Homo sapiens: one gene and its partners. The protein of the gene in region 1 interacts with the protein of each later gene in a biochemical or structural test. Each region holds a gene or a part of one and is shown in the gene's direction. Other genes may lie near its edges.

Region 1 (3,600 bases):
CTTCCAAATTTTCACATTAATTTCCCATGCAATTCTCCCAAGCATTGCTGAGGTAGGCCAAATTGGTTCCTCTTCAAACAGGTGAGGAAATTGAGCCTCCGAGATGAAAAGTAGCCCAGGTCCTTCCCACCCAGTGCTCTTTCTTCCTTGCCACCTCCCACCTCCCATTCTTACCTCCTAGGAGGCTTGGCTGCATGGCAGTTGTTCTACTGCAGCCTCTGCTGGCACACAGCCCCTCTGCTGCCTAGCTCTTTCCTGTTCAGAAGGAATGGATGCTGCCTCTGGAGGCCAAGCTGCTGGTCTCCTCTCTTCCTTGAATGGTCCCTTGATTCCCTCAGCAGTGGGGACAGTCTGCAGAATGGGGCTTGCTCTGGGTCACTGTTCTAAGAGCTGAGTTCTAGTCCTCACCTAAGATCAGACTGACATGGCCCTCAAAGGAAGAGCACTAGGTTGGGCTTTGTGGTGGGGATCAGTGTCTCATTTTTAGTCCCAAATTAAAAACGAGATTTTGGGCTGTACATCAGAGCAGTGACATCATGGACATTATGTCTGTGGGTCAGCATGGGTACACACAGCTCCCAGCCCAGGTACATAAGTGGGCCCACATTTCCTGGACTGCATGGAACGCCATGAGCCCAGTGCTCCAGAGCCTTGTACTGTATAGTGCTGCATGATCACCATGGGAAAATCTGAAAACAGCCTCATTTCTGGAATGTACAGGTAACATTCTTCCAGATCCAGCCCTCTGTCAGTTAATGTTTTATTAACTTTTCACTGCTTCTCTAGGGCTCAGAAAAGGGATTTTTAAAAACCGGTTTGCTTCTGCAGGTGCTGTCAGACCTGGGCTATGCCTGGTGGTTTGCACGTGCCCCTAGCTGTTGCTGCCAGTAAATTGCTGGTTACGTTCCCATGCCGCACTCCAAGATTTACCATTGTAGAGTGTCAGAGCTTGAAAGGGTCCCTGAGATCATTAGGCCCAACCTCTTCATGTCATAGAAGAGTAAACTGAGGCTCATAGAGGAATAGTGATTAGTTCAAAATCACCCGACAAGTGAGTGGACTTGACTTGGTCCCAATTCTAAATGTGCTATTTGAGATCAGTGGTTCCAACATGGTTACCCAACAGGCAGCACTGGCCTTCTACCTGTGCCTTTCCTTGACTGGATGAGAGTAGTACTGCCTTTGGACTGCAGAGAAGACTTTAAAAAAAAGTAGCACTGGCTGGTGGGAGGGGTGGGATGGGGAGAGGAGATGGCTGGAGCAAGGAGCCAGGCATTTTTCTTATCTCAACATGTGTTTGCAGCCTCCTCCAAAACTGCCCAGTGGAGTGTTCAGTCTGGAATTTCAAGATTTTGTGAATAAATGGTAAGTTGGCTCCTTGTTCTCTGGAAGCGTATACTCTGGATTTGTCAGGCTCCCCACCCCATTTCTGGAAGCACCAGCATTGCTTCTGCAGGCAGAGTTTTGCCCTTTACCCTCCCGTCTGATGATTCTTGGCTGCTGCCATAAGCCCTTTTTTAGAGTGCCAAGACTTATGTGGCATGTCTAACTACATCATGGATGTAGTAGCTGCTCCTTTTGGTACTTGCTCTCCAGGGATTGGCACGTTGCTTTTTGACCTTAGTTTAACTCAGCAAGAATGTATTAACTTACTGTGGGCATGATACTGTGCTTAGAACAGGAGGATGAATCAAGCCCAGGCAATCCTCGGCCTCTAGTGTGCAGAGAAGACAGGCATGCAAACATGTTATTTGAGCTAGAACCAGTGCCAGGCAACAGCTCTTACCTTGTCTTTCTTCCTTTAAGCTTAATAAAAAACCCCGCAGAGAGAGCAGATTTGAAGCAACTCATGGTGAGTCTATTTATTCCGGATTCTTACAGTACCTGTTTATTCATTTGTTCTTCTCTGTCAGTCATCTGTGCAGTACTTCCAGAGCCCATTCATTCCCTGCCCACTGTGGTCCAGCTGAGCCTGGGGCTGCAGAATACCAAACACCAGTCTCCTTTGCTCTCCCATCAGTTTAAGGGAAAGCTGGGGTGACCCCCGCAGCCTGAGTAAGCATATGCCAGAGGAAATGCCTGAGGGGGCCATGGGAAAGAAAAGGCCAGCCCACCCCCTTCATGGGGATGCGGCCTTTCCCTAATACTGACTGCCTCATCTTACATTCAGCCTCCTTCCAGAGTCACTCTCCGCCTGCTGTCTCGTTTGGTGGCAGTGGAAATAGCTAAGTAATACTGTAAATATCTGGACAGCCATAGACGGTGTATATAGTATATAATATGCACTAAGTCCATCATTTTCTTTGTCCCTTCTAACAAGCCTGTGAGGCATTTAAGGCAGAGTTACTGTCTCCATACTGCACGAGTAGGCTCCAAGAGGTGACTTGCCCAAGGCCTCACAGCTGCTGTGACTGGTGGAGCAGGTCTTTGGGCCTGCAGCTGGCCCCACTGTTGCTCAGGGGCAGGTGCCAGGTGCTCTTTCCAAGTGCAGCACAAGCTCTAGACCTGAAACTCTTGGATTTTCCTTCCTGGTGGGTTTTGTTTTTTTGTTTCTTTTTAACACCACGTCCTCTCGTTTCCTTACATGCAGGTTCATGCTTTTATCAAGAGATCTGATGCTGAGGAAGTGGATTTTGCAGGTTGGCTCTGCTCCACCATCGGCCTTAACCAGCCCAGCACACCAACCCATGCTGCTGGCGTCTAAGTGTTTGGGAAGCAACAAAGAGCGAGTCCCCTGCCCGGTGGTTTGCCATGTCGCTTTTGGGCCTCCTTCCCATGCCTGTCTCTGTTCAGATGTGCATTTCACCTGTGACAAAGGATGAAGAACACAGCATGTGCCAAGATTCTACTCTTGTCATTTTTAATATTACTGTCTTTATTCTTATTACTATTATTGTTCCCCTAAGTGGATTGGCTTTGTGCTTGGGGCTATTTGTGTGTATGCTGATGATCAAAACCTGTGCCAGGCTGAATTACAGTGAAATTTTGGTGAATGTGGGTAGTCATTCTTACAATTGCACTGCTGTTCCTGCTCCATGACTGGCTGTCTGCCTGTATTTTCGGGATTCTTTGACATTTGGTGGTACTTTATTCTTGCTGGGCATACTTTCTCTCTAGGAGGGAGCCTTGTGAGATCCTTCACAGGCAGTGCATGTGAAGCATGCTTTGCTGCTATGAAAATGAGCATCAGAGAGTGTACATCATGTTATTTTATTATTATTATTTGCTTTTCATGTAGAACTCAGCAGTTGACATCCAAATCTAGCCAGAGCCCTTCACTGCCATGATAGCTGGGGCTTCACCAGTCTGTCTACTGTGGTGATCTGTAGACTTCTGGTTGTATTTCTATATTTATTTTCAGTATACTGTGTGGGATACTTAGTGGTATGTCTCTTTAAGTTTTGATTAATGTTTCTTAAATGGAATTATTTTGAATGTCACAAATTGATCAAGATATTAAAATGTCGGATTTATCTTTCCCCATATCCAAGTACCAATGCTGTTGTAAACAACGTGTATAGTGCCTAAAATTGTATGAAAATCCTTTTAACCATTTTAACCTAGATGTTTAACAAATCTAATCTCTTATTCTAATAAATA
Region 2 (3,600 bases), on another chromosome or scaffold:
CTTCTGTTTCAGAAATCAGTCAGGAGACGGCTGTGAATCCTGTGGACATTGTCAGCACTCTGCAAGCCCTTCAGATGCTCAAATACTGGAAGGGAAAACACCTAGTTTTAAAGAGACAGGTAAGGTTCTCATCAGGGGCTTGCTCATTGCTGGATGTCCTTCAAGACTTAGCAGAGCAAAGTATGGGCCTTAAGACTGGAGAACCTTCCCTTAAAGGAGTTGGGCTACACGCCCCTTTTACTGGGTCTCATTTCTGTAGCTGGCAGTGATGCCTGTGTTGCCTTATCCTTATCAGAAGGTTTTGATAAGCTCCTGTCTCAAATTTGGATGACACAAGTTAAGCAGCTCCAGTTAAGCAGCTTTATGTTGTACAGCATTTCTGTCATTTGATGTTTTTCTTAGGTGGGAGGAAATTGCCCATCTGTAGAGGAATCTTCACAAATGCTGTCTCAACTCAAACTCACATCTAATTTTTTAAATTATTTCATATATACAATAAAGGTCGGTGAGCGATGATTTTCATTTCTCACTGAGGGTAAAGTAGGAAGAATGGATTAGATAGGAAAGCAGTTTATAAGTCAAAATATAGTATTTTTTTTGATACCCTAATATGTTGTTAAACCTTTGGCAATTCCTTCTTGGCGGTTAGTTATTTTGGAATCTATGTAAAGGCACTTGAGTTGAAAGTATGTAATCCTTTTTCCCATTGTTCTCCCTCAGGACCTGATTGATGAGTGGATAGCCAAAGAGGCCAAAAGGTCCAACTCCAATAAAACCATGGATCCCAGCTGCTTAAAATGGACCCCTCCCAAGGGCACTTAAAGTGACCTGTCATTCCGAGCCAGCGAACCCCAGCAGTAGGAATCCGTACCCTAGGGATCTGTCTGTCATTTCTCTGTTGCTCTTGTGATTGGCAAGTACAGTATCCTTTGGGAAGGCCATCCCCCTCAGGACTGTCCTGGCTCCGACCTTTGTGTACACTGCAGACGCTGGTTCTGAGGAACTGTTGTTTCGGCCTCAGTGAGGTTGCCTGGATGGGATCTGTATTAGACTTGAGTGCAGGTCTCTCAGCACTGACCCAAGGAGTTCTGTTATGGTACTGTACCTGTCCAGTCACTGGTTCTCTCCTCATGTCCTCTCGCCCCATGAGGTTGTGTTGTGTCTTCTAAGCGTGGTACTAGTGCTTGCCACCTGGTCACCAGACCTCCAAATATGGCTGCCACCACCAGGACCTTTCCAGTTACTCCTTATATGTGTGTTCTATGGAGGGGCAGGGAAAAGGTGGCACTTGTGAGTGTGTGTGGATTGGCAGGGGGTCCATTCACTTTGGGTTCCATCTTGCTTTAAATTTCTTCATTTTGATTAAGAGACCTCTTTTTGATCTGTATTGGGCTAACCAGAGCCAAATACTTTTGAAGAGTTTCCCAGGGACTAGTCATGGTAATAGCATATAATTGATCTGAATGAGATGGAGAGAAGAATGAAGGGGTGGTGGTTCTGGGTTTGATTTGAGTTCACCTGTGGGCAGTGGGCAGTGGGCAGTGTCTTGGTGAAAGGGAACGGATACTACTTTTTGCCTCACCGTAAAGTACTCACTAGTAAATATTTCCTTCTCTCTTTACTCCCACTTTTTACGTTTGCAGGTGCCAAAGTAATGTCCACTTTTCCCTTTCATGCTGCATATTAACTGGTTAATTATACTGCAGAAACCTTTTCACCTCCACTAGTCTGATACAGTACATCTGTACTTCCATATACCTTGCACTGATTTTGTCTGAGTGCCCTGGGAGAAGTAGAAAATGATTGAAAGTGACTTCCGTATCTCAGCCCATGACTCAGCAAGGCAGAATGGCCACCCCTGCCAAAGTTTGCTTCTCTTTTCAACAGTGCCTCACCCTCCCTCTAGGATTAAAGTGCTTCTGCCCTTCCACGAACTCCTCCTCCATTTCCTTTTTGGGATTTGTCACCATCCTTCTATTCTCTGGTCTTCTATTTTTGGTGTTGTTCAAGTGAAGGAAGAGATGTTCCCTCTAATTTCTCTCTAGCCCATTATAACCTGCTATCTTGGGGCAACTTTTGATGTATGACATGTCACCCTTCCCAACTTGGTCTCCTCCAACATGCTGTCTTCATGTGGAGCCCTCACCACAATCCCTGACTCCGGTCATTTGTGCCTTTCTCTTGTCATCTCTGTACACTACTTATATTCACTGTGGGTTGGGGGAGCTAATTTTAAGCATGTTCAGTGGCAGCTCCCCTCCAGTTTCAGTGTCACTGTTAAAATTTATCAAAAAGCAACTTCACTAGGGGTTTTCTTAAGGGATAAAGGCCTTTTACAGAAGCTAAACCCTTCCCCACATGTGGTAGAATGTGCTCTTCTATATCTACTCCTCAATAAAGCATGTTCTCTGCTCAAGTCTGTTTCATCTGGGGGCTCTCATTTATATATGAAAATGATGCACACGATCTGCTACTAATAGTAAATGCACTTGGGATTTGCTTTCCCTAGCAGTAAACTGTTGAGGGATGTGGTTTGTGGCTATGGAATGTTTTTCCCTGTGATACAGGCTGTCTGTAAAGATCAAGGGAGTGCTCACTCTGAACTTCTCTAGATGGTGGCACAAATTTGATCTGCCTCACTTTGGTTCCAGCTAATCAGTATACGTAGCAATGATTAGTCAGTATTACCCATTCTTTCACTAAGTGCCATTTTCCACTGATTTTAGGGGCAAAGGAACCAATAGGAAATTAGGATATATGGGGGTACAGTTGATGCCTGTAGGAGATGGGAACAGACATTCCTTCTCATCTCCAAGCTCATTCACCAGTATTGAGCAGTGTCACCTCTAATTATTGACTCTCTCGCAGGTTGAAATTATTCTTTTTGAAAATAGCTGCATTTTCATGTAAGATATACCCAGCACAGGAAAAGGGTGGCTGAGCACTAACCTCCGTATGGTGGAAAGGAGGAGGCTGGGAATTGTATGTGCTGGAATGGTTTCACTCACTGTGACCAGTAGTGGTGAGAACCCATACAGTTGAAGTTTTTTGCACAGTCCTGATCCCAGGTCTCCACTCGCTTTGCCATCCCACTTTACTCCCTAAAAATAAAAGGATTTATTATCTCATTTAAACCCCCACAGGTGTGGAAACAGAGTTTCACTTGCCTTGGCAACTTTGCATGAGACTATCCCATTTCATTCCGTTTTTTTTTTTTTGAGTCAGAGTCTGGCTCTGTTGCCCAGGTTGGAGTGCAGTGGCGCAGTTTTGGCTCACAACCTCTGCCTCCCGGGTTCAAGTGATTCTTCTGTCTCAGCCTTCCGAATAGCTGGGATTACAGGTGCCTGTCACCATGCCCAGCTAATTTTTGTATTTTTAGTAGAGACAGGGTTTCGTCATGTTGGTCAGGCTGATCTCGAACTCCTGACCTCAGGTGATCCGCCCACCTTGGCCTCCCAAAGTGCTGGGATTACAGGCGTGAGCCACTGCACCCGACCTATTTTTTTTTTTTTTTTTTTTTTTTTTTTTAAAAAAAGACAGTCTCACTCTATCATCCAGTCCGGAATGCAGTGGCATGATCTCAGCTCACTGCAATGTCTG
Region 3 (3,945 bases), on another chromosome or scaffold:
GCTCTGTTTCTGTCTCTTGTTTCACTTCTGGAATCCCAGGGAAGGGAGAGTCCTGATCCTGGGAGACACCTGTGATTCAGTCAGCTGAGTCCAGGCCAGTGGGGTCGTGCTATGCAGCTGTGGCTGTGTGCGGCCTACCGGAGGGGGTGGGGAGGAGAGAAGGGGGTGCTGAAGGGAGCTGAGCAGATGCTCTGAATGGCTTCTCCCTGGAGACAGGTAGAAATGCAGCCCAGCTCTAATGATTGAATTGTCTCTGGAATGTCAGTCATGATGAATACATGTAATATGCATGCTTCCATACAGTCATACTTGTCTTGGTGTTTCCCCTCTACCCCTTCCATAATATTTGAAAAATAGGATTGAGGTTTGGAACCTGATCACCAAGATGTACATTTGGGTTTGATTGCTCTCCATTGTTAAAGTTTCTTTTTTGCTCTTGCCTTTTTCTGTGCAGAGGATGATGTGGACCTGGAAGCCCTGGTGAACGATATGAATGCATCCCTGGAGAGCCTGTACTCGGCCTGCAGCATGCAGTCAGACACGGTGCCCCTCCTGCAGAATGGCCAGCATGCCCGCAGCCAGCCTCGGGCTTCAGGCCCTCCTCGGTCCATCCAGCCACAGGTGTCCCCGAGGCAGAGGGTGCAGCGCTCCCAGCCTGTGCACATCCTCGCTGTCAGGTAGGTCCAGGCCTTATGGGCAGAGCCTTCTCCAAGGATGAGAGCTGTCGGCAGGGACACTGCTCTCTGTGAGTTAAATGGTGTTGGGGGGAATAGTGTTGGTCTTGCAAAGTCAAGAGGCAGATACATTGCTTTGATGGGATAACGGATACACTGAGTGTGTGCAGTGTGCCGCCCTTGGGTTGAACTTTGTAGCCAGTTCAATTCCAGTAGTACCTTTTATTGAGTGCCTGCTATGTGCAAGGCACTGTGCTAGGTAGAGGGATATGCAGGAAAACCACCAGAGGAAAAATCTCTGGAAAGATTGGAAGAACAGCCATGGAGCTGATTGCATGCCCCAAGTCCTCACTACCCAGAGTAGGGACGGGAGGCTAGCAGCTACAGCACCCCCTGGAGCTTGTCGTGCAACCCCAGACCTCCCTCAGAGTTGCATTTTGCCACATTCCTCTGCTAATTCAGGGGTAGGCACATCTCTGTGGAAACAGGGAGGCTGGAGGGAGGAACGTGCTGGGGACGTTGAGGGAGGTTCCTGGGAGGTAGGATTTCTGAACGGATGTCAAAGGGTGATAGGAGCTCAGATAGATGGAGGCAGAGGTTTTGTGAGCAGAAGAGATGATGCAGATGGGGGCCGGTGCTGAAGCACTTTGTGTGCCTTTTTCAGGAGCCACGTGAGAAAGAGTTCTGGACAGGCGTGTGAAGGGGCTGGGTTTGGGTTTTGACACCAGCATTCTGGTTGCCAGGGGTCGTGGGGGCAGTGGTAGAGGGCAGCAGGGTTGGCAGAGCATGGCCGGTTTGGAAGTGGTCTCAGGAGCCCCCGGATGGGAGATGATTGTGCGCTGCCTGAGGATGAAGAAGGAGGGGGGATTTGAGCACGTTGCTGAGGAGGAGCAGCTGCGTTTTGCCAGCACTTGAATTTTGCCAGGGCTGTGAGGAGACAGAGAGTGTGTGGAGGGTGACTTGGATTTTGTCTCGAGTGCCTGGGAGGAGGGTGTCTAGAGAATGGTCATGTCGAAGGTGAAGGTGCTGAGAGTACCTTAGACATTCTGAATGAAGATCTTTGTAGAATCAAGCTGAGAGCCAGGGGCAGCCCTCAAGGATCCGCCTGTCTGCCCTGTCGCAGTCGGGATGGCGTGGGGCTCCGTGGGACCCTGCGTGCCTCTCTGGGCCTTTGCGGAGGATGTACAGCCATCTCTGCTGGGACTGCCCCTTGCCCTCACTGGCCTCTGTCAGGATGGGGTTCTGGTGCCTTCTGTCTCAGCACCCCATCTTCCGGGGAGCTCTGTTCATTTCCTGGGCTCTTCTTGCTTCTAGAAACTTCTGAGAGTTTTCTTTGTGGTCTGACATCTTGGGTCTTCCGCAGCCCAGATAATCACCTTGCCCCAGGTGGCAGCTGTTTCTTACGGAGGGGAGAGGGTGCAGCGGCCCTGGCGCCCGTGGTCAGCTGCCTCCCCAGCTTCCCACCCCGGCTTCCCCTCCGACTTCTCACTTTTTGTCATATTCATTGATGCTGAATGATGCCTGTCCCAGGGTTTGTTCAACTTTGCTCTTTGAAGCGTGACCCCTTGTACTTAGCTCCTGAGGAGTTAAGTCTGGTGGGAGAGCTGTTTTTCTCTTGGGAGCATCTCTTGGGAGCATCACAGTAGCCTTGGGGAGTGCCTGGGAATATGGAGGTGCAGTTGCATGGCGAAGGTGCCCGAGGGTGGGCTGGAAAGCCAGAAGGCCTGCCTCCCTGCTGGAGTAGTTGCCCAGGACCCTTGAACCTCGAGTTCTGGCTGAACTCGCCCATATGTGCCCCGGGACTACCTGCGCTAAGTCCCTGGGATGGAGGGGCAGGCTTGCTCTGTGGGACAGCAAAGCCCTCTCCCTACAGGGTCACAGGTGCTGTTCCTTGGGCCCAATGTCTTCTCTCTGGTGTCCTCTCAGATAAGTAGTTTTGTTTCTTACTTTCAGGTGGATTAAAAAAAAATGTGGAGATCAATCTGGAATCACCAAAGATTATTTTGTGAAGTGAGGCCATTTGCTGAGTGCTTACTGTGTGCAGATGCTGATGAGCTCCTCCTTGTTATCAGTGCCCTCGGAGGGAGGCAGTGTGGGTTACCCTCGCTTCCCAGCTGAGGAAACCGTGGCACAGCGGGGCGGTAACTGGGCTCACCACATCAGGTGGGAAGTGGCCATGGAGCAGGCTGCTGGGTACCAGAGGTCACGGAGCATGGTCCACGCTGCAGAGGAACTTACCGGGGGCTGCCATGCAACCCGAAGGGAGCTGGGGGGCAGGCAGGGTATGGGCAGAGGAGACACTTGGGAAGGGCAAGAAGGCTTTGCACATAGGAAAGCCGATGGGTGAGCCGATTCTGTACAGAGAAGGAACCCAGGCTTTTGAGAGTGCAAGGGCCACGCATGTGTTCTAGACAAACACAAGTGAGCCAAGGCACAGAGAAGAAGGACCTCGCCCCTCAGCTCTGCAGTTCCTGCCACCATCCCTGACATCCCTAAATCTCAGCACCCCTCTCCATAGTCACTGTCCCTTCTATTGTGAGCCTCTTTGGTGGGGATTTTTTGTCTTTGTGTGATATCCCTTAGTCTTGCCTTAGGCGATGTCTCTGAGCCGCTTTAAAGTCAACACAGGACTTTTTAAAATGCTCAAAACAACCCAATAAATAGAGAAGCTTTTGTGGACACTAAAACGTCAGATTATCTTTTTGGGGTGAAGTCACTGGCTAGAAGCCGTGGATGGGAAAGTGGCACTGGCCACCCGTTTTATCCATCTCCTCCTGTATGACAATGGCCAGACGTTTCAGTTGGACGCCTTGCCAAGGCTGAAGCTGTTATGGGAAGAGTGGGATTTGTTCACAGTAAAAATAAACTTTATGGCATGTCATCAAACCATTATAGGAACGGCTTTCCTGTATTTCGCAGCACTGATTCCCTTCATGCCATGTGAGTTCTCGTAATTTTAAATCCATGCATCATTTGCTGGTCTACGTGGGATAGTTAGCTGGATCTTCCTTTAAAAAATAGGGAAAGTTGGTAAAAGAGAAAAAGTAATACAGTCACAAAATGTGTTTCTGTAGTGGCAAATCTCCTGGGAAAGCTAACGGATTGTTGATTTTGTGAAATCGTAAAAATTGTCAAAAAAATTACTTGAGGACACAGCCTATGATGGGGGTTTCTGAGGTATGTTTAAACATGGGGAGGGATTGGAAATGCCGAGTGAAGATAATGTGAGGTTTGCTCCCCTCTCCTTGAAGGTAGGAGGCTGCAGACAGGG

Evidence for each region.
Region 2: of the proteins of MAP2K1 (region 1) and KAT7, one has a biochemical effect on the other in vitro, tested with the Homo sapiens proteins (one study listed by BioGRID).
Region 3: the proteins of MAP2K1 (region 1) and GRB10 form a complex in vitro, tested with the Homo sapiens proteins (one study listed by BioGRID).

What each region holds. Positions count from the first base shown.
Region 1 is NC_000015.10:66,487,912-66,491,511, forward strand, and holds part of MAP2K1 (dual specificity mitogen-activated protein kinase kinase 1), read left to right. Parts: intron 1-1,303; coding exon 1,304-1,365; intron 1,366-1,806; coding exon 1,807-1,852; exon of another isoform or gene 1,853-2,590; coding exon 2,591-2,704; 3' UTR 2,705-3,600. UniProt on the Homo sapiens protein: Dual specificity protein kinase which acts as an essential component of the MAP kinase signal transduction pathway.
Region 2 is NC_000017.11:49,826,681-49,830,280, forward strand, and holds part of KAT7 (histone acetyltransferase KAT7), read left to right. Parts: intron 1-12; coding exon 13-119; intron 120-720; coding exon 721-822; 3' UTR 823-3,600. UniProt on the Homo sapiens protein: Catalytic subunit of histone acetyltransferase HBO1 complexes, which specifically mediate acetylation of histone H3 at 'Lys-14' (H3K14ac), thereby regulating various processes, such as gene transcription, protein ubiquitination, immune regulation, stem cell pluripotent and self-renewal maintenance and embryonic development.
Region 3 is NC_000007.14:50,671,168-50,675,112, reverse strand, and holds part of GRB10 (growth factor receptor-bound protein 10), read left to right. Parts: intron 1-454; coding exon 455-677; intron 678-3,945.